Linked DNA regions of Homo sapiens. The protein of the gene in region 2 interacts with the protein of the main gene of each other region in a pairwise test. Each region holds a gene or a part of one and is shown on either strand. Other genes may lie near its edges. The genes, in order: AGR3, ERLIN1, SEC23A and SEC22A.

What was found.
Region 1: the proteins of ERLIN1 (region 2) and AGR3 interact in binary tests that used the Homo sapiens proteins (3 or more experiments, as listed by UniProt).
Region 3: the proteins of ERLIN1 (region 2) and SEC23A interact in binary tests that used the Homo sapiens proteins (3 or more experiments, as listed by UniProt).
Region 4: the proteins of ERLIN1 (region 2) and SEC22A interact in binary tests that used the Homo sapiens proteins (3 or more experiments, as listed by UniProt).

Annotation. Positions count from the first base shown.
Region 1 is NC_000007.14:16,878,548-16,886,527, reverse strand, and holds the start of AGR3 (anterior gradient protein 3 precursor), read left to right. Parts: upstream 1-4,544; 5' UTR 4,545-4,584; intron 4,585-5,772; exon of another isoform or gene 5,773-5,804; intron 5,805-7,882; 5' UTR 7,883-7,909; coding exon 7,910-7,980. UniProt on the Homo sapiens protein: Required for calcium-mediated regulation of ciliary beat frequency and mucociliary clearance in the airway. Might be involved in the regulation of intracellular calcium in tracheal epithelial cells.
Region 2 is NC_000010.11:100,161,531-100,169,403, forward strand, and holds part of ERLIN1 (erlin-1), read right to left. Parts: intron 5,877-7,873; coding exon 5,818-5,876; intron 2,566-5,817; coding exon 2,474-2,565; intron 1-2,473. UniProt on the Homo sapiens protein: Component of the ERLIN1/ERLIN2 complex which mediates the endoplasmic reticulum-associated degradation (ERAD) of inositol 1,4,5-trisphosphate receptors (IP3Rs).
Region 3 is NC_000014.9:39,086,074-39,093,946, forward strand, and holds part of SEC23A (protein transport protein Sec23A), read right to left. Parts: intron 7,172-7,873; coding exon 7,114-7,171; intron 6,555-7,113; coding exon 6,468-6,554; intron 5,641-6,467; coding exon 5,404-5,640; intron 936-5,403; coding exon 856-935; intron 1-855.
Region 4 is NC_000003.12:123,267,706-123,275,272, reverse strand, and holds the end of SEC22A (vesicle-trafficking protein SEC22a), read right to left. Parts: intron 3,752-7,567; coding exon 3,551-3,751; 3' UTR 1,137-3,550; downstream 1-1,136. UniProt on the Homo sapiens protein: May be involved in vesicle transport between the ER and the Golgi complex.

The DNA.
Region 1 (7,980 bases), on a different chromosome or scaffold from region 2:
AATATTTAGCCCTTAAGAAGAAGATCAACTAGAGGTGCTATATTCTCTTTCAGGAGATAATCTTCTATTAGAATTTTTGAAGCTATCAAAATAAAATGATTCCCTATGGAAAGATTCATAATTTCCCTAGAAACATACTTTATTCTATGGCTTGGTGCTTTTATGTCTGCAACTTATGAATATATTTATTTTTTCATGTTAAAACATAACTTTTAAAACTCGGATCACATTATAACACCTTATTTGCCATCTTAAAAATGTTCTTTATCCTCTAATCTCATGGTAAGACCACATCCATATTCTCCAGCCTGTTGAACGGAGCCAAATGCCCCACACATCACTCAAGAGCCCTACCACTCTTTCCTCCCCACACCCGTTATTGTCTCCCTCCTTTCCCTGCTTCTGTTACTCTCTGGCTCTGCTTTCTTCTTCCCATTTTCTGTATCTATTCTTCATCTACTTGAGAACTATTTGGGGATCTCACTTCAGATTTACCATGGCTGCCTCCCAGCTCTGCACAATCCATTTTAATTTTATTCATGTCTTCCAAAACAGGCCCTCCCTGACCTGGGCTGAGGAAACTGGCCAGGCTGAGTCCCTGATCTCCACCATGGCAGGAAAAAATGATATGCCTGTTTAAGATATAAAAGCATTTTTATGGGAAAAAGTACAAAGTTATCACGACAAGCTACAGGTAAGAGCCTGATTGAAGGACTTGAATCTCTAATCCAAAAGCTACATGCACAATTCTACTTAATCTTACTTAGCTCACAGGGCAAATACCAAGGAATAAATCTCATTTATATTTATATTGTAAAAATACCACAGGTTTATCAAGTGTTTAGATGTAATACCCTGCAAGTTCAGAGACTTTATGCTTAATGGAAATAAAACATTATTGTTTTGCAATGGGAAGTGTAACTAATTTTGACAGAGCAAGAACCTGTAGGTTACAGACATTGATTATGAGAGGCTTATAAAAACACTATGCATTTAAATGTTTGGTATAAAATTGCACAGCTCAATAATGAATTCTGGAGGTATCTATTCCTTTAACCCAAAGAGTCTTTTTTCTCCAAACCCAATATTTTTAAAAATAACTATTTGCCTCTACAGGATTTAGAAAACAGTGATACATAAATGCTCTCTGCAAGACATTATTCTCTTTCATTTACTGAATAGTTTCACAAATACCTGTCCTAATATGGTACAATCTTCAATATTATTACATAAAAAAGAGGTTCAGAAGTATTCATTGAATGGCACCATTTGTGTTAATATACAAACATAAATAGGTAGATGTATAAACCGTTATTGCCTCAAGAAGACCCATAGACTGGGCAAGAGGAATACCTACTTTCCACTGTCAGCCTTTTAAAATGTATATATATTTTCTTAGTAAGAGACTGATAAACTGAAATACAGACAAACAGATGGACACATACACACACACACACACACACACACACACACAAAGTGAATAGGTAATCCTAATCCTATATTTAACCAATGATTTATGTGACCAATTAAACTTGTAAAAATATAGAACAATGCCCTCAAAAGAATCAACTCCAAGAGCAAAACAGCTTGATTTATTATTAAAAGAGTATATAATTAGACACACTTATATTCTGTTCCTGAATAGAATGAAACAGAGAGGCCCTACAATTTTGTAGCTTGGAAATTTAATGAAACATTTAAAATAATTATAAGGCAAGATGACTTATGTTACTTGTTTTATCTTGTAAAATTTTCTGTTGAAGAAGGTACTCTAAGCAGAGGCTAAAAGACAATATTTGAGATAATATTTCAGTAAGATTAAAATTAGAATTAAAACTGTCCTCCAGTGAACTGAACTTTCTCAAATTACTGGGTAACCCATCGGCTATAGAAAAATTATTTTCTTAATTAAAAATAGGATGTAATATGACCTACAGGAAGAGTCAATTGAAGCTGTTGACAATTCCAAATCCATTAACCGTAAGATTGATTTTGAAGATTATTGCAGGCAATTTTATGAAAAAATAAATATGAGGTCACATTGAAAAAATAAAGACAGTTAATGCCAGAAAAATACCAGCCACCTGGTATCAGATAGGTACAGTTAAGAAAATGATTAACATAATTATATACAAAGAATAATTTGTATAATTTGCCATCATGTACATGAATATACTTTAAATAATTTTACTTCTAAGAATAATCTTTCATAGAACCATTTGTGATCTATTACACAATAAAACAAATTTTGGATGACAAATATATATTTCAAAATATTATTTTAAGATGCTATAATTCCAATGACTTTATTACCTCCTTTTACTTTCAAAATTGTCCTGGGTTAGAGGACACATTGCATTATCACCCTAGTGGGAGAGACCAAAAGACACTGATCAGCTCAGACATTATAGGGTCTAGTTTCACTACCCCACAGGTACTCGACTTCCTCTTTCTCACTCTTATCTTATAATTTATTTAAATGAATATTATGTGAGAAGTTTAACAGGGATGCAGAATATTTGGAGATTTTTCCGTAACCACTCTCAGTCAACAAGAAGTTGAAAGCTTTCCCAGACTTTTCACTAACAGAGAAATATAAGGATTATTGCCCAGCCATTTCTTTGCTTTGCAAAGGCTGGCTGGATTTAAAATTAAAATTATATGTCAAGTTTCATAACCTTCAGCAAGAAGGATTCCATTTGAATAGCATGTTCCAGGGAAGGGTCCCTTTGAGAATCCTATGTAAGGAAGAAAGCACAGTTAGACAAGTACACAAATCAGCAGTACAGTTAAAGAATATACAACCTAGCTACATGAAGTTTCTTTCAGGACAATGGAAAGTTTAATTAGGAAAACAGTAAAATTTTCTATAACAAATGAGAAAATCCATATGCCCATCTTTATAGAACAAAATCCAACAGTCCTGCTTTTAAGAGATGTAGTTTAAGAATAATGGTTACCTTCTTAACATGGTCAACTCAGCCAAATCCAGCACTACATCTAAAGTTAAAATACTGGAAGCACACCCGCTTTAACATCAGGAGCAAGACAATCATCACTCCCATTCTTGCACAGTATATTTGTTAATGTATTCAGAGCAATTAGACCCTTCCCCACAAAAAAAAGAAACAAAAAAAGGGTGGGAGAAGGGAGGGATGGAGGGATGGAGGGATGGAGGAAGAGAGGAAGGGAGGAAGAGAGGAAGGGAGGAAGAGAGGAAGGGAGGAAGAGAGGAAGGGAGGGAGGGAGAGAGGAAGAAAGGAAGCAAAGGAAGAAAGGAAGGAAAGAAGGAAGGAAGGAATTTATAAACAATACCCTGGATTAAGGTTCAACAAACATTTTCTGTAAACATTTACTAAAGATAGTAAATATTTTAGGTTTTGCAGATCATACAGTCCCTGTCACAAGCACAGTTGACCCTTAAACAACATAGATTTGAATTGTGTGGGTTCACTTAGAGAAGGATTTTTTTTTAATATATTCCTTCATATGGGCAAGTTCTGTATCCACAACCAAAAGTGGATCAAAAATACTGTGTTCACGGGATGCCAAACCTGCATATGCGGAGGACCAACTTTTCATATCTGTGGGTTACGCAGGGCCAGATATGGGACTTTGAGTGTGCACAGATTTTGGTATCCACTGTCCTGGACTGTACCGGACTTTGCTGTTGCAGTGCAAAAGTAGCCATAGACACTAGTAAGCAAATGCACATGGCTGCATGCCATCCGCCACATCTCTCTCTACTTAAGGACACTGAAATTGAATTTCATATAACTTTCACATGTCACAAAATATGATTCTTTTGGGTTTTTTTCCCCAACCGTTTAAAAATGTCAAAACCGTTCCTGTTTCCTGGGCTGTACAAAAAACAGGTATGCCAAATTTGATGACACACTGCCTTACGTTATTTTAACAGTAATTAAATAATTACTCTCAATTAATTCAACAGTATCTAACTATTAGATAAATTTAAACTTATCTAATGGCCTGTTTTTCTAATTTTTTGTGCAGTAAAGGTTTTATAGAAAAATTGTAAAGAATAATCAAATTATGAAAATGTTCAACTTTAAAACAGAATTTTTATTTCCTTCTCTCTCAAAAAAAAAAGGACCCAATCTCTTTAGCTGTTAATTATATTCCTGTAAACAGAGTAACCCTTAGGAATTTCTATTTGAACAATGGCATGCACACAGTTCTTAAATTCATTCCGTTTTCTTTCTTCCTTTTCTTTTTTTTTTTTGTGCTGAACTTCAGCCAAACATTAAACTACCTTGGGAAATAAAAGGTAAAAGAGAAAGAAGCACAAAGATGGTATTTGACCTTATTTTATGAGGACATTCAATCTTAATTTAGAGAAAAAGAATAGAGCTTTTTTAGTGTGAGAAGCATGAGAACTGGAAAGAAGTACAGAGTTTTTCAGACCAGCCTATTTTTCTAAGTTTGTTTTCCGGTAACTATGCTCTTGTTTCTATGCAGGTGAGGTTGTAGGTCAGGTGTGTGTGTGTGTGTCTATAAATCCACACCCATTTTTAACCAGAAACATCCAGAATACATTTCCAACAAGAGCACTGGCCAAGTCAGGTAAGCAAGCAAATTTTCCAGATTACTTAATCAGTGGTCAAGCTTTGCTATATTTAAATAATCACCTTTTGCTATTTAAAAGTGAAGCTTTCAGTAAAGGGTAGGAAAGTGAAATGAATTTTTATTTTTCTTCTTTTACTGAACTGGATTTCCTTTGCTGGTTTCATAGTTTTATCTCTATTTATATTAATGGTATTAGAATAAATTGACGTCAACCACAAAAACGACTCTTTGAAAAGTATTCTACAAGTAATGATAGCTCTTCTTTATATTCTTTTAAGTCTTGTTTTATTTTAAAATATAGGAACTTATAATATCAGTTACTTACGTTAAATTACTTTTGAAAAATAAAATACTAATGTCATAAAATGCTAATTGACCAATGTTTATACAATCTAATTGCTGACATATGGTTATGTGCCTCCCAAATGCATTTTAAGCTGCTGTAGGCCTGTAACCATGCCACATTTATCTGTGTTCCCCCAAGTAGCTTAACCTTGCAACTGATACTAAAGGACCCTCAGCAGTTTACACTATATTTTACCAAGGAAAGCGTTATTTATTCAAAATCTACAGTGTACAAGTTGTACTGCTTTGTCACAGAATATATTTAATATCTATTTTATAATTTATCAATGTAAAACCAGAAAACCAAGATTTTTATTTTTTAATTAGAAAGTATTTGACAATAATACATAAAGACTTGAAATTTTAAAGAAAAAATGGTTCCCGCTTAACTCTAAGCTTCGCAGCTTTAAAATAGCAAAAATGATGAGGTTATGCTTTTTCTTTTTTAAAATGCAGATTCCACCTGCTTGTCTCTGTAGCTAACATAGAAAAATCTTTCTAAAGATTCCTTCCAGATTGACTTTTCTTAACTCTTCTTTATATCCAAGATCCCTGGAAGAATTTTAATGACGTTTTGGACCCTATTCCCACGGAAAAGGAACAGAGGCAGATAAAATTTTGCACACAATTTCCAGGGGTTTTGAGCCTTCTGTAGCTCAGCCACAGGCCTTCTAGAAGCCTGCTGGATCCAGGTTAAGATCCTGTCCTAGGTGGTTGCTTTAGTTCCTCCACTGCAACTCCCAACCTGTCTAACTAAGGCTGCCTTCCCTGGGTTGAGCTTTGTGTTCCAGAGTCAACTGTCCCTGTCCTGTACTAAAATCCACCCTGTATTTGTTTCAGTCTTTAAAGTACAAGATGACCAAGGCCTTAAGGTACAAGATGACATTCTGAAATGTTTTATGGTTTAATAAGTTATGAGAACTTAAACTGAAATTCTTATCAGGCACCGTGATAATTGTTTAACAGGGTTTTTATATGCCTGGAAAGAAAGGACAGGAAAGGAGGGGAAAGGAGGGGAGAGGAGGGGAAAGGAGGGGAAAGGAGGGGAGAGGAGGGGAGGGGAGGGGAGGGGAGAGGAGGGGAAAGAGGAGGGGAAAGGAGGGGAAAGGAGGGGAAAGGAGGGGAGAGGAAAGGAGTCCGGGCGATGTAGCTCACCCTTGTAATCCCAGCACTTTGGGAGGCCGAAGCAGTTGGATCATTTGAGGTCAGGAGTTTGAGATCAGCCTGGCCAACATGGTGAAACCCCATCTCTACTAAAAATACAAAAATTAGCCGGGCATGATGGTGGACACCTGTAGTCCCACGTACTTGGGAAGCTGAGGCAGGAGAATCGCTTGAACCTGGGAGGCGGAGGTTGCAGTGAGTGGAGATGGCCCCACTGCACTCCAGCCTGGGTGACAAGAGCAAAAAAAAAAAAAAAAGAAAGAAAGGAGAGAGAAAGAAAAGAAAGAAAGAGAGAGAGAAAGAGGAAGGAAGGAAGGAAGGAAAGAAGGAAGGAAGGAAGGAAGGGGAAAGAAGGAAGGGGAAGGAAGGAAGGGGAAGGGAAGGAGGGAGGGACAACTGGGGATTAGGGAGGGAAATAAAGTAAGGTTAACCTGGAGTGGTAACTATTTTCAGTCCATAGAGGGGCTGCAATAGATACACCACTGGGAAGGGGAAAACAGTATAATGGGAGGAATGAGGAAATGTCTGGAGAAATCTAGAATCTGTAAACTTCTTTACCACCAAATTGTTGTTCTCCTCCACGACTGCGGTTGCTACTTTACAATAACTAGGTGATTAAAATTGCCAAATGTTTTACCAATGCCAAAACATTGTGTCTTATATATCTTTTCATTTTCCACAATGCCTACTACAATAAAATATAGCAACATCTTTGTTTGAACAGAATCACTAAAGAATCAGTCACTAGCCATTTTGGCTAAGGAAATTTTACTATTTTGGTGATGAGTTCAATACTAAATAATGTAAGCCAATAGGAAAGACGTCTTAAAGGAACTTCAAATCAATGTGAATGATGTCTGTATATTTATTTTATATTTTGAGGTAAAGTTTCAAAACTGCATGAGTCAACCATTTTCAAATCAGTTTTATATGCTAATGCTGTAACTAAACATCTCACAAGTATTAAAGACTTCCTGTAATATATTTATCAAGTGGTTTATGACCAGATCAGGCCCAACTTTGGACTTCAGTTTTTATCTTAACGTGCAAAGTATAAAAGATGCACATTGAGTTAAGAATCAGTTTGAATTCTAGCTAACCAGGAGAGAATGTAATCATGACAGTCTATTCTTCTCTATACATATGTCTAATTTATAGTAATATGATAGTACTTGATTTTTATAAAGAGCTGTATCATAAACTGAAGGGCAAAAGTCTGAGTAATTGTTGGAAGGATGAGAAAGGTAAGAAACTATAAAGGAACTGAAGGACAAGAATCCTCCATATTCTATTTTTCCTCTGATTTCTATTTTAAGCAATATTTATTCATGTATAATCTTATCTTAGTATAGAGTTAAAATATTTTGACCTATTAGATGAAGGAGAATCAAAAGGCAAAGAATATTTCTGCATGCTAAAAGTCACTTCATAGTTTACAAGACATCAAACAACATGATCTTATTTGAGTTTCGTCTTGTTGGTGTGAACACTACAGGGCGGTTCAGAAGCAGGCTTCGTGTGCCCTGATCCAGCTCTTTTTTAATTATACAGCACCATGCCCAGGAGGCTCAGAACATGACTTCTCACCAACTGAGCATGTACTGAGTTGATTAAGTATTTTAAAAATAAAATGTGAATGAAAGTTCTATGTGGTTGGTTATACCATGTCAAACCAAAAAAGCTGAACAGTCTGTCATCACAGTATTGGTCCAACTCTTAGCAAATATCTTCTAATAATAGCTTGAAGTAATTCACTGGATTCTGAGAATTCCTTTCTGTCATCTAGCTTCTTCTGAGAGAGTCTCTAGAAGACATGATGCTACACTCAGCTTTGGGTCTCTGCCTCTTACTCGTCACAGTTTCTTCCAACCTTGCCATTGCAAT
Region 2 (7,873 bases):
ATATTTCACAAAACTTAAGGAGCTGGTTCTAAAATTCATGTGGATGAATAAAGGGCCTAGAATAGTCCAGGATAATTTTAAATATAGTTAGGAATAGTTAACAGGTAAGAGAAATAGTTACACAACTCACTCTCCACATCGCAAGACTTAACATAAAAGCTACAATAATTAAAACAAATTAATATTGAGGAAGGAGAGACCAAAAAATTGGAAAATAATAGATTATGGCATCAGAATAAATTATGTATAGTATCTTATTATATGATGGATATGGCATTAGAAATAAGTAGAGGAAATAATAAACTATTCAATAAACAGTCTGAGACAATTGGCTTGCCACTTGAAAAAATTAAACTGAATCCCTATGTCATACTCAACACCAAAATAAATTCTAGATGGGCTAAAGACTTAAATATGAAAAGCAAAACTTTAAAACTTTTAGAATAAAAGTCTTACTTTGGACTAGGGAAAGAATTCTTAAGATAGGAAAAGCACAAAACATAAAGGAAAAGACTAATGAATTTGTCTACACAAAAACTACACATATATGTATATCGAAGACATTGTAAAGTTCAAAGACAAGCCACAAATTGAAAGATGTTGGAAATGCATAAATCTGAAAAAGGATCAGTATCCAGGAGACAGAAAGGACTCTTACAAATCAACTCAAAAAAGCAATCAAATAATGGGCTAAGGACATTAACAGGCAATTCATATAACAACAACAAAAAAGGAAACTTGAATGACCAATAAGCAATATTCAACTTTACTAACAATCAGGGAAATTCAAATTGAAATTATGTGATACCATGTCTTCCATTAAACAGACATAAAGTTTTAAGTCTGATAACTCCAAGGACCAAGAAGGATGTGTGGAAATGGGAATTCAAATATGGCAGCATAGAAACTGGATATCAAATATTGTTGAAGAGATGGTAAAATCAAAGAAGTACTTGAGAGAGCAATTTGTCAATATGTTGAATGTGAAGACATGCTACCCTATGACCCATCAATTCTACTTTGAGATAGCTATTCTAGAGCAGTGCTTCTCAAACCACCTGTGGAAAAATACCTTACCTTTTTGTGTGTGTATTTCAATTTATGAGGAACCAATAAATTGTAAACTATAACAAAAACAAATTACAGTACTAGAAAAAAGAAATTAAAAAACAAAAACATAAATATATAAGCTCTGATTTTTTATTTTTGATTCAACAGACATAAAACTGCTGTATTAAAATGCTATAAAAACTTCTAAACACTCATTCTCAATTTCTATACTCATCTCATTGAGGCTCAGAAACAAAAAGCTGGTGATAGGGCACTGGCCCACACCATACACTGAGTAATGCTACTCTATGGAAACCTGCACATGTACACTGTATCCAGGAGGCACTGGATAAGAATGTTATTGTGGCAGTGTTTGTAATAAGGAAAAACTAGAAACTACCTAACTCCTCATTGGTAATTCATTACAATAAAACTAGGCCCGCTCATAGAACGAAAAATGTAGCAGCTAAACATAAACGATCTACCATCTCACAGAGAATAAGGATAAAATGCCAAAAAAAGAAAAAATCCCTAGATCTACATGTATCAATATGAATAAAACTCAATGTTAGTGAAAATAAGGCAAGTTGTAAAATAAGAGTTTGGTAACATTTTTGTAGTTTCAAACAGGTAAAACAATTTTATAAACTCTTACACACTTACAGTAAAAGTATAAAAATATGGACAGAAAGGATATACATCAACTTCAGAATAGAAGTTAATCTGAGAAGAAAAGTCAAAGAGTAGGACCAGTGAACATACAAAGGAGGCTTCAAACAGATATTTAATTTTTTTCTTAAAAAAAAAAAAAAAGATCTGAAGGGAATAAGGCAAAATCTTAAGCTTTCATTATATTGTTCTCTGTACATTCCTCTATAATTGAATTATTTAATTAAAGATGTATTAAACTTTCAGCATCAACCGAGGGCCAAAGAGGGCAATCTAATACACAGTGACCTGGAGTATAAGGGAAGCCACTGTAATCTGAAATGAACTGTAAACAATCCTGCCATGCTTTCATAAACGGCACTACCTATCCAGGTAAAACTAAGTGCATGTCAACAACAAGGATGCATACTACAATCTGAAACTTTGGTCAAAAAACTTCCCTATTCTTAATCTGTACAAATGAAAATGCTATCCACAGACTCAAGCTGCCTATAAACCCTATCCATTCTCCCTGTTCTTGAAAGAGACAACAGTAGCATCTAACAACATGATGGACAGCCACAGCACATCATTAAGTACTGGTCTCACCTACTTTTAAAGGCTTTAGAACATCTGAATGTACAGTGGAGATTCCAGAATTCCCCACTACCTATGATGCAATCTTACTGAGTCCCATGATACCCAAAATGAGACTGACAAAGAACAGGACAAACAAATGTACTTAGAGACAATCATTTCAGAGAAATCCAAGTACCTATAACTGCCTTTTTCCTCTCTGTCTCAGCTTCTTTTTCCACAACCTTTTGTTTCTGTGCAGCTATAAGGAGTTTTGTCTTCTCAGCCTCCCTGTGAAGCAAAATGTTATAAAAATTAGAAATGATTCTCCTATGTGCAGTCACAGCCAGTAATTCTGACCCTACAGTGAGTCAGAGAACCGTTTTGTCAACATGAGCTTTTGGACCCATTAAGGTAGGTTAAGAGAGGTGTTACTTTATTTTACTTATAATAAATCTGAGGTTGAAAGATTCAATGATTTGCCCAAAGTCACCCAGAGATAGGAAAAAAATTTAGTACATTTGAATTTTAGTTTGGCTTTCTTCTCCTAGTTGTATTGTGTAAAGCCTGTGATTTGGAAGGGAATATATCAATACTTCCTTTGCTGTTAGACCTCCAGCTAGTCCATACAGCAGCTCTGTGCCAATTAGAAAACGGCACCAGCCGTTTCTACAGTCCTGCAGGTGCATGGTTTGACATGCAGAATGAAGCTGGGTTTCAGCCCCTGCCCTCCTCAGGTGGGCACCCATGTGCAGTGACCATATTTGTTGCACAGAAGATATAACTAGGTGGTAGTTATTAGGTAGTAAACTGGGGCTTACAGTAAGGAGAATTTTCTAAGGCTTCCAGTGTCTAATACAGGTTGAGCATTTCTGATCTGAAAATTTGAAATCCAAAATGCTCCAAAATCTGAAACTTTTTGAGAGCCCACATTATGACACAAGTGGAAAATTCCACACATAAGCACTTAAGGTAAACTTTGTTTCATGCACAAAATTATTTAAAATATTTTATAAAGTTACCTTCAGGCTATAGGTGTATATGGGACATAAATAAAATACCTTAAAAAAAAAAAACTAACCACTATACCAACAAGGAAGAACATAAATAAATTTTATATTTAGACCTGGGTCCCATCCCTGAGATATCTCATTATGTCTATGCAAATATTCCAGAATCTTTACAAATCCAAAATTTAAAATACTTCTGGTCCCAAGCATTTCGGATAAGGGGTACTAAACCTGTAATGGAAATGGCTGGCATATTACTAAGCATGTACAAGTAGCTACTGGGTAACCACGTGGCAGAAATGGTATAAGAAAACACTACTATCAGGTGCAAGGTTATACTGGATCATCCCAAGGTAGCTTTTAATTCTGGAATTCCAATAGTCCATAAAATTAAGAAAGATCCAGAATCATCTGAAAAGTAACTCCAATAGTTTCCCCAAAACACTTCCCCTCAAAGTTTCCCCTTTCCTCTGATAACATTGATAAAGACATCAAATGACAGTCTGAATACTATGATTTATTTGAGAGCAGAAAACACACAATATTCATTTTTCCGTCACCAGAAGCAATCTTTTTTTTTTTTTTTTTTTGAGATGGAGTCTCACTCTGTCACCCAGGCTGGAGTGCAGTGGCACTATCTCGACTCACTGCAAGCTTCGCCTCCTGAGTTCACGCCATTCTCCTGCCTCAGCCTCCCGAGTAGCTGGGACTACAGGCGCCCACCACCATGCCTGGCTAATTTTTTGTATTTTTAGTAGAGACGGGGTTTCATTGTGTTAGCTAGGATGGTCTCGATCTCCTGACCTCGTGATCCGCCCACCTTGGCCTCCCAAAAGTGCTGGGATTACAGGCATGAGCCACCGCACCCAGCCTAAGCAATCATATTTAAAGCCTAAGACATGCTGACAGTTTAATAAAATTTTCTTTTTGAGACAGAGTTTCGTTCTTTTGCCCAGGTTGGAGTGCAATGGCGTGGTCTCGGCTCACTGCAACCTCTACCTCCCCGGTTGAAGCGACTCTCCTACCTCAGCCTCCCCAGTAGCTGGGATTATAGGTGCCTGCCACCATGTCCAGCTAATTTTTCTATTTTTACTGGAGACAGGGTTTCACCATGTTGGCCAGGCTGGTCTCAAACTCTTGAACTCAGGTGATCCGCCGGCCTCAGCCTCCTGAAGTGCTATGATTATAGGCATAAGCCACCACAGCCCGCCTATAAATATTTTTTCAATAAGTGGATCACATCCATAATCTACCCAGCCTGGCAGTCTACATTTTATACTTTTAAAAGAAGAGTTCTTTGTCTACAATGAAAAAGAGAAAACAGGCTGGGTGTGGTGACTCAAGCCTGTAATCCCAGTACTTTGGGAGGCCAAGGCAGGAGGACTGCTTGAGCCCAGGAGTTTGAGACCAGGCTGGGCAACAGGGCAAAACTCCGTCTCTATGAAAAATACAAAATTTAGCTAGGTGTGGTGGCATGCACTGGTAGTCCCAACTACTCAGGAGGCTGAGGTGGGAGGATCGCTTAATCACTTGAGCCTGGGAGGTTGAGACTGCAGTGAGCCGTGATTGTGCCACTGCACTGCAGTCTGGGCAACAGAGCAAGACCTTGTCTCAAAAAAAAAAAAATTAAGAAAAAGAGAAATAAAACTCTGTATGAGCTCAGAGAAGGTATGAGGGAAAAGGAAAATATAAAAGAAGAAAAAAACAATAAAAATCTGCATGGTAACAAAAAGGACTCAGAAGTAAACAACCTCATAAAGTAGTATTACTGCTCCTTGGACTTCCAGTATTTATACATCTGTGGTATCCTTGACTTGTGCAAATTTATTTTTCCAGCGTCTTATACTTTCCCTTTTAACACATCAGCCAAATTTCCTAAAGACTTTTATTTCTTCTTTTCAGTACCAGTCATACGAAAACAATATTGCCATTTCAAACACAGTAAGTATTCCCCTAAAAGGGATCCTGTCAGAAACTAATTTCATGTCTTCTCATTCCCAGTCAGCCCTGGATACATAAAAGAGAAGACTACCAGGAGTCAACAGAAGCAAGGCTTCCCTAGAGGCACATTATAAAGAACCAGGTCTAATTTTAGATATACAATCACATACAATGGAAAACCAAACTTTATACCAACAAGGTATCTATTCCTACCATTACAACACAGAAACAAAATATGAGCACTCTCTTCAACCCTAACGGCTTCAGGACTCTTTCCTCTATTAAATATTTAATTCAAGGTACTATTCATATAAAATTATAGCTCCTTAAGCTTCCAGCAATAGTTTTACAGCAAACTGCATCTTTAGCCACTGAAACTGCTCCTGAAATGTCCATACATAAAGAGAACACTAGTAAGAGTCTAGTGGGAATTAAGACACAAGAATAGGCAATATTACTAGAGTAAGAGTAAAGAAGATAAGACACATACTCCACCCCAGAGTGTATTGTCTCACATGTTTCCTCTAGACTGGAATATTAATATGCAGACAGCCCTAAACAGAAATATTGGGATCCCATGCATATTACTCACATTAACTCAAAATTTCTTCTTATGGCTTCTGGGATTTTGGGTTTTGTAACACGCACAGCCTAAAAAATAAAAGTGAAAAAGCCAAAGTATATTTGAAAGATAAATCTTCAAATTAAATCTTCTACAGAAAAGCCCCTCAAATGATACTAATCTAATAAACAACAGCTATAATATAGCGGCCTACTAACACGTTTGGGGATCCCACCAGAACATTTACTTTTCATGCCATCACACCAAGAATCAAAGACAAGCTGCTTCTTATTTCCTTACACAATGCCAGATTACAGGAAAAACCATCTACCCACTGAGGAAACAACTGCCTTATGAAAAAGGTTCTCACTTAAAAGATGTTTTACAAAGGTCGTTAGATACTTTTGCTTTCTTTTTCAACCCTGTAAACCAAAGAAGCCGGGAAGGCAAAGTTCCAAGACTGAAATTGTAAAGTCAGAAACAATTAGTCAAATACAAAAACAAACAAAAAAACCCAGGTTGGTGTATACAATTTAATACAGTGAGTAGTGAGTAAATTAATCTATCACTTCCAACCCCTGCAATCACTTGGTATTTGCTGTAAGTAAACAGCCCACTGGCTGAAGGAAAACAAATATCAATTAAAAGCTTATATTCTTTCTTCCTTAACTCTCACTTAGAACAAAGTCTGTCTTTGTAGAGGCTGTTTACCAGACACTTTGTTTCCCTAATCATAGTGTTCTTTGACACAATTAAGATTATCTACCTGGACAGTACTGTTTTTTGAAGGCTGACTTTTCTACATCAAGGACTTGATCTCTCAAAAGCTTTTGATTTTACTAAACATACGATACCCCGCCGCCCCACCTATACTGCAAACACACACAAAAAACACTTTGCTGGTCTGAAGAAGTTTTCCTTCTGAAAACTGGCTAACCTTTTAAGAATAACAAAGCCTTTAAGCACTTAGTCTTCTTTAAAGGCTTTTAAAACTTTTAAGCGATATAGCATTTCCTATATGAAATAGATGAGTCAAATTTGTAGGTAATTTTGAGGACAATCATAACTAAATATAAGGATTACAGTGGAATGGAATAAGCAGCTGAAGGCTGTGTGGAAAAAACTCACAACACACTGGCAGTGACACATGTGAGGCCTCACAACTCAGTGGAGACATGCAGAAGACAAATAAAAATTCAGGACCAGATTTTGTGAGATGTCAGATTTCACCATGTGACTAGCAGACATAAGATTACTTCCAATATGGATTAATATGATTCAAGGAAGCACTGTCATACTGCATTTAATTAAGAGACTGGCCACATATCTTTTTAGCCTTATTAAAAGAAGCGTAAAGTAGGACTTTTTTTTTTTTTTTTGAGATGGAGTTTTGCTCTTGTTACCCAGGCTGGAGTGCGGTGGTGCAATCTCAGTTCACTGCAACCTCCGCCTCCCAGGTTCAAGCGATTCTTCTGCCTCAGCCTCCTTAGTTGCTGGGATTACAGGCATGCGCCACCAAGCCCGACTAATTTTTGTATTGTTTTTTAGTAGAGACAGGGTTTCACTGTGTTGGTCAAGCTGGTCTCGAACTCCTGAACTCAGGTGATCCAACCACCTCGGCCTCCCAAAGTGCTGGGATTACAGGCGTGAGCCACCACACTCGGCCAGGACTGTCTTTTGAAGACTCCTATTTTGCTGAATGAGGCTGAAGAACATACTACATTGTGCTTGCCAATCTTGGGAAATCTCACAGATTTTCAAATATGTGAAAACATAAACACTTACTGTACAGATACCATGAGTAAGTTGCATCAAAAGAGATTTTAAAAGTAAAAGTGGGAAGTCCCACTCAGGCACCCCTCTCCCTCACAGGAGAGAGAGCTATTCTCCTTTCTGTTTCTTTTGCCTATTAAACCTCTGCTCTTAACCTCAAATAATAAAATAATGCCCCCATCCCACTCACATACATAGAGTGAATGGAGGAAAAAAATGGCTAATGAAAGGAATATATGTATTGAAACTGACCCCTGGGTTTTAAGCATATATTATATATCAAAAGCCAGTCTATAATATAGTCACTCCCTTA
Region 3 (7,873 bases), on a different chromosome or scaffold from region 2:
CACATATTGCTAGGTCCCAGTTCTAGAGTTTGTTTCGGTAGGTCTGGAGTGGAGCCGAAGAATTTGCATTTCAAACGCATTCCTAGGTGACACGTGATGATAACAGCCCCAGAAACCACATTTTGAATACAACCACAATAAACGAAACACTCAAACCAAGTACTTCAGGATTTCATCTCTCACTAGTCTAGTAAGTTTTAGGTTACTGAAATAATTATGAGAAAATACATCAACTAAATTTTAGTAATACTACCTCTGATTAGAAAGCTTAGGGGAAAAAGCTAGCAGGGCGCGGTGGCTCACACCTGTAATCCCAGCACTTTGGGAGGCCGAGGAGGGAGGATCATAAAGTCAGGAGATTGGGATGGTGAAACCCCGTCTCTACAAAAAATACAAAAATTAGCCAGGCATGGTGGTGCATGCCTGTAATCCCAGCTACTTGGGAGGCTGAGGCAGGAGAATTGTTTGAACCTGGGAGGCGGAAGTTGTAGTGAGCCAAGATCATGCCACTGCACTCCAGAAACCTTAGCGGGAAAAGCTACCTCTAAAGCTAAGAAGAAAAAATAAAAACCTTGGCTGCCCTAAAACCACACAAAAACAAGTTTTTTCCAAAGTTCAAAATAAAAAATAAGGAAAATAACAAAACTAAAGTAACTCCTTACATTGTTAAGACAAAAAACAAACCATTTTAATGACATGATTTTGACTCAATTCTTTAAAAAGTATGTTAATACAATTTACTTATATTCCTAAAAATATTTAACAATATAGTATCACTGAATGCCTATGTTCAAGGGTATGGAATGTTTAAAATAGCTACAGAAACGGTCAAATTCTCTTCATCATATTTATTACCTGTTGGAAGGAGGTGGCTGCTGTACCTGAGGACCACGTGTTGCTTGAGTAAGTGGTACTTTAGAGAGCCCCAGCATTTCCTGTAAAGAGATTACTTGTGCAATATTCATTTAATTACTTTTACAAAGATTTATCAACTATTTATCATGTATAAAATGCTGTGCTAGACATTAGAAACACAAAAATAAAAAATACAAGGTCTCCTTCCTCAGAAAACAAAGAATCCAGTGGGAGAGATTATCAAGAAAACAATAACACAAAATAATCATCATGAGAGAGAAAAGCACAAGGTGTTATATAACCAAAGAGGAGGCATATTAGCTCAAAAACACTTTATTTCTAATTAACAGTCAAAATAAATTGTTGTGTAACTTAAATGTCCATACTTCTTAATTTATATTCATTCATCCGTTTCAGCAAACTATATCATAAGCACCTGCTATGTGGCAGGAATACAATGGTAAAAACTAACTAGTCCCTTCCCTCATGGAAATTAAAATCCAGAAACATAAATTAATCAAATCAACAGATAAATAAATGTAAAATTGCAACAGTAGTAAATGTTAGGACTTGGGGAGTTATAAGGCTCACGTACTTTGTACCTATATACATCTTGATTTTCTAATGTAATTCATAACCAAACTACGAACTGCCACCTTTGTTTTGAATTTCAGATATGTGCACAATTTCTCTCTAGACAAATGAAAATAATGTTATACTAAATTTTTCTTGAATCTAGAAATGCTTAGTCATGAAGTACTGGAGTTATAAAACTGTGTAACAGAAAACTGAAGTCTAAAGATGTACAAAGATAAAATTAGTGAACTAATCCTGCAATATTTCCTATACTGTTAGCAGAAACAGCAACTCTTTACTAAGAACTTAATATGTTCCATATTCTATGCTAAAACCTTTATATATACTATTTCCTCACAAAACAATAATGAAATAGATTTCTTCTTAAATTCTACTTTATAAATGAAAATTGACAATCAGAAAGACTAAGTAATTTGTCTGAGGTTACACAATCAGTAAGTAACAAAGCAAGATTTTAAATCCAGGTTTTTCTATAAAGCTCTATAAGGGTTTACACCATATTGAGAATTTCATATTTAGTACTAATAACCTGGCAAAATAGGTAGTTTATTCCTTTCTATGAAGGATGACACAATCAGCAAAGACAAAAACCCAGGATCATACAACCAGAAGAGTTTAAGATTTGAATCCAGGACTATCTGGGGAGCAAAGGCCAGGCTCTTTTCAACTAATAATAGGGAAAGAATAGGGAAATTTAATCTAAATAGGGAAAGAAAATAAACATGTTTCAATGGAGAAAAAAAATTCAGTCTGCAGGCATTCACTTGCCTATTGAAAAAAGGAAGATGTGGCCAGGCGCAGTGAATCACAGCTGTAATCCCAGTATTTTGGGAGGCCGAGGCGGGTGGATCACCTGAGGTCAGGAGTTCAAGACCAGCCTGGCCAACATGGTGAAACCCCATGTCTACTAAAAATACAAAAATTAGGGCCAGGTGCGGTGGATCATGCCTGTAATCCCAGCACTTTGGGAGGTCAAGGTGGGCAAATCACAAGGTCAGAAGTTCAAGACCAACCTTGGCTAACATGGTGAAGCACCAACTCTACTAAAAATACAAAAATTAGTAAGGCATGGTGGTATGCTCCTGTAATCCCAGCTACTTGGGAGGCTGAGGCAAGAGAAGCGCTTGAACCCAAGAGGCAGAGGTTGCAGTGAGCTGAGATCGTGCCACCGCACTCCAGCCCGGGTGACAGAGCGAGACTCTGTCTCAGACAAACAAAAAAAAACTAGGCCGGCCTCAGTGGCTCACACCTGTAATCCCAGCACTTTGGGAGGCTGAGGCAGGGGGATCACCTGAGCTCAGGAATTCAAGCAGCCTGGCTAACATGGTGAAACCTTGTCTCTACTAAAAAATACAAAAATTGGCCAGGCGCGGTGGCTCACGCCTGTAATCCCAGCACTTTGGGAGGCCAAAGCAGGCAGATCACGAGGTCAGGAGATCAAGACCATCCTGGCCAACATGGTGAAACCCGGTCTCTACTAAAAATACAGAAAAAAAAAATTAGCCGGGTGTGGTGGCATGCGCCTGTAGTCCCAGCTACTCGGGAGGCTGAGGCAGGAGAATCGCTCGAACTAAGGAGGCGGAGATTGCAAGATCATGCCACTGCACTCCAGCCTGGGTGACAGAGCAAGACTCCGTGTCAAAAAAAAAAAAAAAAAGAAAAAAAAAGGAAGATGTTTTATGTGCTTCATATGCATTATATAAGTAAAAGGTACTCTACAATCAGAACAGTAAACTATTCTAAATAAATTCATAATTTAATAATAACATTAATAGTAGCAAATGCTTAAATGTACAATTCATTTAATTCTCATGACTACACTATAAGGTATATACTATTACTATCTCTATTTTACAATTGAAAAAAACTAAAGCACAGAGATTTCAACTGGTTCACTTTCTCTCCTGTCTCATGGAAACATGATTCTCCTCTCTAAGGTACTCCGCTTCCTGTGCTCCTGAAGGAATCCCTACTATGTCTTCCTAAACCTGACTTTCCTCATCTCACTCTTGCTTTAACTCACCCTCTTTAGTCTCTTTCCTTTCTCCTTCCTCCTAAAGTACATCTCTTTAACTCAGTTCTCTCTCAAATTCCCATGCTATCTCCTCCTTCATTACCTTCAACAAACCTCTTAAAAGAACAAACTTCAGGCCGAGCACGGTGGCTCACTCCTGTAGTCCCAGCACTCTGGGAGGCCGAGGAAGGTGGATATCCTGAGGTCAGGAGTTCAAGACCAGCCTGGCCAACATAGTGAAACCACGTCTCTACAAAAATACCAAAATTAGCTGGGCATGATGGCGGGTGCCAGTAGTCCCAGCTACTCGAGAGGCTGAGGCAGGAGAATAGCTTGAACCCGGGAGGCGGAGGTTGCAGTGAGCCAAGATTGTGCCAATGCAGTCCAGCCTGGGTGACAGAGCGAGACTCTTGTCTCAGAAGAAAAAGAACAAATTTCAACTTTCTCTACCTTCTCAAATCTTATTCACTATTCATTGACTAACGCATTCATTACTCATTATCCTCCCCATTTAAACCTGCAAATTCCCCTAGTATGTTCTCTTAGTTAACTGCAGCACCACTACCTCAGTCTGCCAAGTTTCAAATTAGACTCACCCTCAAAAATCTCTTCCTTTCTTCTTCATTTTGGTCTACCTGGAAGCCTCTAAAGTCTGATTTTACATCTGTCAACTTTATGCCAGGCTTATCTATCATCTTCTAGGGTAAATGTTCTCAACTAGGAGTTGCACCAGAATTACTTAGAAAGTTTTTTCAAAGTACCTACATGAACAATCTTATATTATATATATAAGGTATATATACCAACTATCCCCCAATACAAACAGACATTCACTTATTACTCTCTTATGGACTATCAAAATCTCTGGGCAGAAAAAAAGATGTTCATCTGAGCAGATGATCCTAGTATGCTACACATAACTCCTTTGCCTTGGAAGAGAAAGCTTCAATTTGTCCCAGTGATAAAAACCACTAAAAAACATATGTAACCATAGTTCCTACACTAAAAATCGTCCAGTCTCAAAATAACTTCCCTCACCAAACATACTAAAAGTATTTAGTTCTTAAGTGAAATGTTAAGAAATAAAAGCTCTCTCCTCAGCTGCCACCAAGGTTCTCGGTTCTTATGAGGAAGCCAAGACCACACTGGGGTGAGACCCTCACTTCATCAGGTGACTAGCACCATGTCAGGCAGCACCAGCCCTGCACTCGCCCACATCATGGCCTCCATCTCAAGTTCTTCTGTATCTCCTTGGACCTCATTCTGCACGACAATGAGGTGACCATCACAGTGGATTAGATCAATGCCCTTGTTAAAGCAGCTGATATAAATGTTGAACCTTTCTGGCCTGATTTGTTTGCAAAGGACTGGCCAATGTCAACATCAGGAGCTTCATCTGCAATGTAGGGGCTGGTGGACCTGCTCCAACAGTTGGTGCTGCACCTGCAGAAGGTCCTGCCCCCACCACCACTGCTGCCCCAGCTGAGGAAAAGAAAGTGGAAACAAAGAAAGAAGAACCTGAGGAGTATGATGATGACATGGACTTTGGTCTTTTTGACTAAACCTCTTTTATAACATGTTCAATAAAAAAGCTGAACTCTTAAGAAAAAAAAAAGAAACAAGCTAATATTCTGCAGTTGCTCTCTCTTAGCCTTCAGCATGACTCTTCATAAGCCCTTCAAATCTCTAGTAAAATACTGTTGGTTTGACTTTAAATTTTAAAGATATAGTTAAAAGTGAAGGGTGTTTAATCTGTATAACAATTTAAGGCACATGAAAAGAAAACTGAAGCCAGCACTGAATTTAAAGCCTTTGTTATAATACAATTATATTAGTTATTCATAATAAAAATTTGTCCTAGAAACATACAGAAGGCATTTATAAACATATATAGAGTAATTTTCAGATAGGTAAAAACTACCATTCTTGTTGTTTACCTGCAGTTGTTTGGCAGACAAATCTTTTGTTCCTCTGAAGACATAGCTTTTTGAAATGCCTTCACATCCAAGTTCATGAACCTGAACCATTCTCCCAAAAGTAATAAGTCCAACCAAAGCTGTAGGTGGTAAAAGACTTAATGACATCTGCATGGATTCTTTCAGGGCTTGTAAATCTTCATCTTCCATGCAAGTATCAACCACATAGAGGAATATCAAAGGCATCTGAGGACCACGCTTTTAAAAAATTCACCAAAAAGAAAAAATATGTAGTTTAAAGCACAGCATACAAGACAGTCAACAGGGAACTAATTAAATAACGAATACAAAAGAATCCTAGTAAAGCCATTTCAGAAATGAAACAGGTTATTTCTACTGTCATGGAGAGAGATCTAAGACATATCATCAGGTGAAAAATTAAGTTTAAGAACATGAGGTATAGTTACACAGAGGGGACTTTCACTTTCCATTTTATTTAACTACATGCATAAGGTTTCATTTGACTCTTTTAAAATAATTAGTAAACCTGACTTGGATTTTCAGATAACTAGAAACTAGCCAGGCTGGACAAATTACTGAATGGTCCAAGTGAACCATAATTGTTTTCTCTAAAACATTCATAAAAGATATTACTTCCACAGTAAAACATGTAAACAACTATGGTTAAGTATTCAGAAAGAGAATAAAAATGATTTTCCTAAAGACCAATGCAAGATTATTTTCATTAATTAGACCTGGGGGATACATTAGCCAACTCCAGCATCATATTGACTAAATATTTGTTAACTGACCTTCCAACTACAAAGCAAGATTTATACTTTATTGTTTACTGATCTACTCAGTATAGCAAATCACACCACCCTACCCAGTATCTTGGCCACCCATCAAATAAGTACAACATAGGAATTACCCTGCTCAAACTGACCTCAACAGTTCTTACCTTTGAAATGTTCCATCAAATCAATGTGAGAATTAAGCATGATTCCTTCTAAATCATCATAATTTAACAATTCTTTCAGTATAAATTTTAAAACTTTCTTAAATATTTGTTCTTAGGTTCTTACCAGAACTACATATTCAATGCTAGAAAACTGAGGTAAAAGTTCAGCAGGCTGATTCAGTTCAGATATACCAGCATAACTAGGTGGAAACTACAAATAGAAAACAAACAAAAATTTTTAACAAATTATAGGCTAGAAAGATTAATAAAATTTTAAACAAAGTATTTCCTGATCATTTAATTATTTTTAAAAAGGCATTTTCATTAAATGAGAAATAATTATTTGTATCTTTTTTTAAATATGCATTTTTCTACATGACTAGTATTTTGGCATTAACATCTGCAATGGATGTTTTATGGGTTTTTTTTCATTTGTTTGTTTGTTTGTTTTGTTTGTTTGTTTTTGAGACGGAGTCTTGCTCTGTTGCCCAGGCTGGAGTAGAGTGGTGCAATCTCGGCTCACTGCAAGCTCCACCTCCCGGGTTCATGCCATTCTCCTGCCTCAGCCTCACGAGTAGCTGGGACTACAGGCGCCTGCCACCACGCCCAGCTAATTTTTTTTTTGTATTTTTAGTAGAGACGGGGTTTCACTGTGTTAGCCAGGATGGTCTCAATCTCCTGACCTCGTGATCCACCCGCCTCGGCCTCCCAAAGTGCTGGGATTACAGGCATGAGCCACTGCGCCCGGCATGCAATGGATGTTTTCTTACCTGATTCCTTTGGTAACAAAAGTTGCAAGCCCAAAGTTTTGCTCGATAATCCACTTGACTGTTTTAAAAAAAAAGAAAAGACATATCAGTTCATATTTCAGTTCAATTTTACAAAAATCCTAATTTCAATAAAATTAATTTCTTCCTAAAACATGAACATATTCAAATTGATAGTCAAAGTAACTTTTAAAAGCCATGTAGTTTTAGATACTGCCAATATCTAATTCACACTTTTAACATATACAAGTTTACCTAAATGGTGAATATAACTTTTAACATATAGTAAATATTGGCTGGGTGCAGTAGGTCACGCCTGTAATCTCAGCACTTTGGGAGGCCTGAGGCGGCAGATGGCTTGAGTCCAGGAGTTCAAGACCAGCTTGGGCAATATGGTGAAACCCAGTCTTCACAAAAAATACAAAGAATCATCCAGGCGTGGTGGCACATGCCTGCACTCCCAGTTACTTAGGAGGCTTAGGTGAGAGGATCATCTGAGCCCAGGTGGTCAAAGATACAGTGAGCCACAATCACAACACTGCCCTCCAATCTAAGTGACAGAGTGAAACCATCTCAAAAATATATATATGCACACATATATACAGCAAATATCAATAAAATTAAAATAATCCTATTTTTTTCTTCAAGTGACTTCAGTAACATCTACACTCAGACCTAGAAAACATTTATTCAGGTCAAAAATATATTTACTGAATGCCTAATAAGTACCAACCACTATTTTAGGCGCTGGTGATACAAGAAA
Region 4 (7,567 bases), on a different chromosome or scaffold from region 2:
ATAGGGCAGTGCATAACTTCTTTCCCTACCCTTAGCCTTGATTTCCAGAAAGTTCCAGAGTCAAATTTTACATACAATAATGTATGTAAACCCTCCCTTCAATTTTCATTTGTTTTTCTTCCCTTTCTGTTCATATTTCATTAACATGGCTGTATATGTCTTTTCTTGGTATGCTGCTTCAAGTGCTTTTGGGAAAGAGGCCAGGTATTAATGTAAATATATTTCAAATACAGACTGAAAAAAGCAAGCAAATATTGCAATTATCTTAGTATATAAAAGAGGGTATCTTCGCTCTCATGGTACACCTTAATCAAAAAGCAGTATTTAGGAATTATCTAAATTAAAATAAAATACACCTATTAGGATAAAATACTCCAGCAGCAGGCCTGGACTCACCAATTTCAGAACCCCTCAACTCCTTGGCTTTACCAAGAACAGTCATATTCCCTGAATATAACACTGGTCACCTTCACTAGTTCCATGCTAGTGCGAAGAGCCCTGCACTAGATCAGGGTTGTGTGTGCTTAGCTATGTGAACTGGCTAAGTCATTACCATCTGATCACCTCTGTGTCCTCCCCCTTAGAGTGAGGGCAGCTACTACTGCTCCTATGCTACAAAACTATGAGGAGGTAAACTCAGGCTTGCTCTTAGAAGTGCAATAGAAACAGAAGATCATACACCATGGAGGCCTAAAGTGATTCTTTCTAAAGAGCCTAAGGACTTTTTTTTTTTTTTGAGACAGAGTCTCACTCCGTCACCCAGGCTGGAGTGCAGTGGTGTGATCTCGGCTCACTGCAACCTCCGCCTCCTGGATTCAAGCGATTCTCCTGCCTCAGCCTCCCAAGCAGCTGGTACTATAGGCGCCTGCCACCACGCCCAGCTTATTTTTTTTGGTATTTTTAGTAGAGACGGGGTTTCACTATGTTGACCAGGCTGGTCTCAAACTCCTGACCTCGTGATCCACCCACCTTGAGCTCCCAAAGTGCTGGGATTACAGGCATGAGCCACCGTGCCCGGCCAGGACTTTACACCAATTTCTTTTTCTAAATTCAAAGTTCTTTTTTTGGCAGCAATGATACAGGTGGGGAAATGATATAAACACGGAGATACAGGCACCAAATAATGAAAGAAAACATTTCTATACATAAAACATTTATACCTGTTTTCATTTTTTTACATTAAGATGTAAACATCCTCTTATCCAAAATAGCCAGTGAAAAAATAAAAACAAAAACAAAGTAAGCCTTTAAAAATAGTTGGTGAGGAGTTTTCAAGTGTTCTTGCTGAATGTATCCGAATACCAAACATTGTAACTCGTCAATTCAATGACAAGGAGGTAGCTCCTGAACCAAACTGGTGCGAGCTGTGTCAATACAGAGCAAAATCTCAACCAGAATGCTCCAACTTCCCTATTTACAAGAAAATTCTGTTTTAACCATTAGTTTAGAAAACCTTTCTTTTTTGAGACAGAGTCTCGCTCTGTTGGCCAGGCTGGAGTACAGTGGCGTGATCTTGGCTCACTGCCAACTTCCACCTCCTGGGTTCAAGCGATTCTCCTGCCTCAGCCTCCCGAGTAGCTGGGACTAAAGGCACGCGCAACCACACCCAGCTAAATTTTGTATTTTTAGTAGAGATGAGGTTTCACCACGTTGGCCAGGCTGATTCTCAAACTACTGGTCTCAAGTGATCTGCCTGTCTCGGCCTCCCAAAGTGCTGGGATTACAGGCCTGAGTCACCGTGCCTGGCCTGAAACCCTTTCTAAATTGAACCACTTCACTTTCCTGGCTACAAAATGCCCAACACAATTCAATGGTGTTTTGATGATTCAGGATCTTGTGATGCCTTGGGGTATCTCTCAGAATATGCATACTTTTGTTAGAGGAGAAGACTGGAGCCAACTACTATTTCCTGTTTTACATGAATCCCTGATATCATAAGCTTATTGTCTTCCTTTTACCTCATTCTCCTAAAAGGAGGGTGCAGACTAAGGTTCTAGTTAAGCAAGATTTTACAGTTCTAGACATATCCACAAATACTGGTTCACGCAAACAAGACAGTTCACTAACTTTTTACCCTCTATTTCTCTACTTAATAAATATGCCTAGTAACAACAATTACAATGTAATGGGATCTGTTTTTCTGGATGATATCAAATTTCAGTATCCTATGAATTCCTTGTTTGAAATATTTTCTTTAAAAAACAAAGGAAAATCACCCATGAAGATGACTTCCAAAACCATGAGAGTTATAGATTTTGCTAGTGGAATCCAACTGTGCTTCCTATATTATTAATTCATAACTGCTTAAACAATCTTTAAAACGTTATCAAAAAACAAGTAAGTTCTCTCAGATACTAGGGGCTTAATTCCTCAAAGCCATAAAATAATGAGTTGCTAGGAAAGCCACCTTCTGATTCTTACTACAGTCAAGCATTTCCATAGTGCGGACCCATGCCACTGGTGGCACACAACATGTCTTTAAGTGATGCACAACATAGAATAATGCTGAATCACAGTGAGAATGTCATTCCCTTTACAGTTTCCTTTTATCCTCTGACTATTCCAGAGACAGTGCCTCATGCTGGTGCTGGTAACATCTCCCTCACTGCCACAAAGAAAGAGCCTAAGATTCGGAGCCTTTCTAGGCATTAGTTTCTAGCTAGAACTGAACAACATTTTTTGTGTTCATCTTACTTATTTTGTGGTTACCTTTTATTTATGGCAAACTGATACTGGTTTTCCACTTGGAGCAGGATTCATTTTTTTAAAAAAACTTTAAAATTTAAAAGATAAATATTAAGAAAATAATACAAGTAGTACTAAAGAGACTGAAGTTTGGGAAACAACGGCTATAGTGTGAGTCATATTTTTTAGACGTGATTTCAAAAGAAACAATAAATGTGGATTAGAAAGGAAACATCCATTACTGTATTTTCGATACTTGTGATGTTCCACAGACGAGCTCATCACAGTCTTCTTCTACATCAGGTGATTTCCAGAGTTAAGATTCAAGCAAAAATATAAAAGTAAAAAGAACCAATTTCACACCATCTTGGACTTTATAAACTCGTAGTACCATAAGTGTGCAAATAATCTGATATTTATCACAGTCATTTATTTAAAACATAAACTTTCCAATTTCTGCAGCTTTTTATTTGGTCTATACTAATGCCTCACAAAGGCAAACTCAGGTTGTAGAGTTCCTCCTGCCTGGTCCTCAGAGCAATACCACATCTATTTTCTGAACTCTTCAGGAAGGATTCAGGACTGCTGGCCAAGACTTCCAATGGCATATGACTGTTCTTCCACTGTTACGGCCTTGAAGAGAGAAATCCCCTCCTCCTCTGAATGATAGTCTCATGGCCAACATTCTTCTGAGAGGACTCTTCCATGCTCACAGGCACATCATGCTGATTTTAAAAAAGGAAAGTTGGAGAGAAAGAAAGCAGAGCTTCTCCTCTGTGGGGAACAGCTTCTTCATCACAGTGCAGTTATGATATGTTCCCTCCTTATCCCCCTGAAGCCAAGGCAATAGATCTGAAGGATGGTGTCAGACATCATAATCGGGAGCCTTGCCCTGGGCTTGCCTTAGCCAGATCTGTAGTGTAACAAATGCTCCCACAGTCACATGAAAGAAAAGCTGCCAGAGGTTGCGCAGTTCATAGAGATACATGTTGCATAGACAGATTAAGCCAAAAGTCAAAAAAGATTTGACATTCCGCCAGCCGGTGTAGTAGACAAGTAAATAACACTGTTCAAAATATAAAAATGAAAGATGATTAGGGTTACAGGAAAAGAAACAGATGTTTCTAATATAAAATTGTAACAGGTCAGAGAGTAAAATATAAGAATGGATAAGGTTATTTTTTATCTAGGGATAAGATAATGTAGCATATATCTAAGACATTCAGCTATGAAAGTTTCACAGTTTGAAAGGGAAATAGATTTTCCTCTTAAGTTTTTCATTTTTCAGAAGAAAAGCATTTTGTATCATATTTTAAATGGAAGTACAATGGAATGACTTCCTTGCAAACAGGCTGAGCAAATTCCCCATGGTGACAGGCAACTAAGAAGCATTCCCAGGGTCTGCGGGTGTTCCATTCTCACCCAGGAAAATACAAAAAAGCACATACAAGCTATTCTACAAAATGGACTCTTAATATAACCTGAGTCTGAGTATTAACAAAATCCACAACATTTTACTAGTCGCCCACTGAGTACAAGGAACTATGCTAGGTACAGCATCTGACTGAACATTTGAGGGAGAATTCATTCAACAAATATTTACTCAGGGCCTGCTACAAGTCAGGCATTGTTCTTCAGTTGTAAGTAAAACAAAGCCCTTGTTCATATAAATATTAAATTTTAATGGGGAAGAATTATAAATGTATTTTAAATATATAATATCAAACAGTTATGTCTTGAAAAAGAGAAAGCAGGAAAAAGGGATAGGGAGTAAGAATGATAGTGGGTGCTATTTTAGATGAAACGGTCAAGAAAGTACTCCCCCTCTCACCGCTCCTGCCCATCCTGGCATTCACCCTTTACTGCTTTATTTTTCTCCACAACATACTATAAACATACTTGAGAAATGTGCTTATTTTGTTTGTCATCCATAGGCTTTCAACAGAATCTATTTCATGAGGGGTGAGATTTTTTACTGTTATTTACTCATTTATCTCCAGTGCCCAGAACAGTGCCTGGGACATAGTAAGTGCTCAATGTGTTGAGTGAATAAACTGTTTTCTAGAAGATGTCTAAAATTCACAACCTGGTAAGTATAGGAACCACAAAGTCTAAGAGAGAGGCCCAGGTCTCTCTGAGAAACTGTGTCCAGGCTTCAGAATGGGAAGGACACACCAGTGTCTGTTATAATGCAGAAAGAATGTGGAAATGTTCTGTTAAATATGTTTAGTTCTTATGCAAATTTGGACTGTTTACTTAAAAAGAAGACTGCTATCCAAGCAAAATGAATTGGAAGTATTTATCAGTGATTTTCATCATATAAGACTGAAAAAATAGAAAAAAATAGCTTTTTCTTTCTAAACAATTTTAGAGTTAAAGATGCAAAAACAGTTTATTGTATACGCTTTGTTTACTGTATACTCTTCACCCTGTTCCCCGTTATCCTCTTATGTAATCATAGTATAATCATCAAACCAGGAAATGAACATTGATTCAATACTCTTAGCTAATCTACAGACTTTATTCAGATTTTGCCCATTGTCCCACTAGGGTCCTTTTTCTGGTCCAGAATCTAATCTGGGATTCTGTATTGCATTAATTGTCATGTATATTCCAATCTGTAACAGCTCCTCCATCTTTTTTTAAAAAAATTTTTGGCCAGGCATGGTGGCTCACACCTGTAATCCCAGCACTTTGGGAGGCCCAGGCAGGCGGATCACGAGGTCAGGAGATTGAGACCATCCTGGCTAACACAGTGAAACCCTGTCTCTACTAAAAATACAAAAAATTAGTCGGGTGTGGTGGCGGGCGCCTGTAGTCCCAGCTACTCGGGAAGCTGAGGCAGGAGAATGGCATGAACCTGGGAGGCGGAGGTTGCAGTGAGCCGAGATCACACCACTGCACTCCAGCCTGGGCAACAGAGCAAGACTCCATCTCAAAAAAAAAAAAAAAAAAAAAAAAATTCATGTCCTTGACAGTCTTGAAGAGTATTAATCAGTTATGTTGTAGGAATGTCCCTCAACTTGGGTGTGTCTGATGTTTTGTCAAGATTGAAATGAGGTTATACAATTTTGGCAAGAATATCAGAGGTGATACGCAATACATGTTATTACATATTAAATTAGATCACTTAATAAGGTGGTATCTATTCCCTTTGCAATTATTGTCTTGGGGGCAGGGAGTTGAGATTATGTGAATATCTTATCTCATCATACTTTTGCTCATTAATTTTAGTATCCATTAATGATTCTTGCCTGCAACAATGATTACTGTGGTGTTCGCTTAATGGTGATTTTATATTTCCATTTTTTATCTATATTTATTGCTTGGAATGCTACTGTAAAAATGAGCTAGCATTTCCAGTAATATATACACACACACACACACACACACACACACACACACACATATATTTAATTCAAGGTTTTCCAAGGCTTTTAAAATAATAGGTCTCTACCCCACATATTACTTATTAATTACAAAGAAGAAAAAGATATCTTTGCAATGGGGATCTGGTAGACACCATCTTAACCAAATGATCAAACTTATCACATTTCCTGACTGAAGCAATGAGAGATATTCAGCATATTATACTATACAGCACTGTTGCCAGAATATTTAACCTTAATATAATCACGAGTAACAGACTAATCCAGATTGTGGTACTTGCCTGAACTCTTAAAAAAGTCAATGTTAAGAAAGATAAAACCAAACTAAAATAGAACAACAACAAAAAGGCTGGGAGACTGTATCATAGATCAAAAGGTACACGACAATCAAATGAAATGCATAATCCTGGATCAGGAGAAATATAGCCACAGAAAACATTTTGGAGACAACAGAAATAATCTGAATAGGAATCATATATTAGATAATATTGTATCAATGTTAAATTCTTAGATGTGATATGAAGTCCTGGCTATGTAGACAGATGTCTGTATTCTTAGAAGATACATCATGAAGTATTTTAAGGTAAAAAATATCATGATGTCTGTAACTTACTTTAAAAACAACGGCTCAGGGACTTCTGTTTCTGGGAAGATGGAGTAGACACACTTTTCCCTATTTCTCCCACTAAGTACAAATAAAAACACTGGACATTATATGTAAAACAAGCATAAGAAGACTCTGAACTGTGGAGGAAAAGCAGACAAATAAAGAATCTTGAGATCCAAGAATGCCACAGTGGTAGGTTCTCTGAGTTTTCTTTTTTGCTTCATATATCCCAGACTTGGAGCTGAAGAAGCTGGCAACTAGAAATGCCAAGGCATGCATATCAAAACAAACAACAAAAAAGACCCTCAATAACATCTTGCTCTCTCTGGTAAAAGACCAGGAAAGAGGCACCTTAGCAAGACAGAAAACTTTTAAACAGTAACTATTATCCTCTAGCCAAACATCACACAAAAAACCCCTGTGACCCACCCATACCCACACCATCAAATGTTGAGAGCCTAGAACATTATAAGCAGATGTTTTAACCCTTCAGCATGGCTTCAGAAAAGGCAAGTAGAAGCCAGGACTTTCATTCCCACTAGATGGCAATGAATCCCTCCTCTACCCTCTTATTGTGATATCAGTGGAGAACACGTGGGACTCTGGACACCCACTTTCACTTGACAGTAACAAGATAATTCATTTCTCATCGGTAACAAGACAGTGGGATTCTCATCAGAAACCACAGAGGCCAGAAAAAAACTAGAACATTTCTCAAGTGCTGAAAGAAAAAAATACTGCCAAATCCAGAATTCTGTATTCAACAAAAATATCCTTTAGGAATAAAAGGAAAATAAAAACATTTATCAGATGAAAGATTAAGATAATTTGCTGCTAGCAGATCTACCATAAAAGAATGGTTAGAGGAAGCTCTCTAAATAGAAAG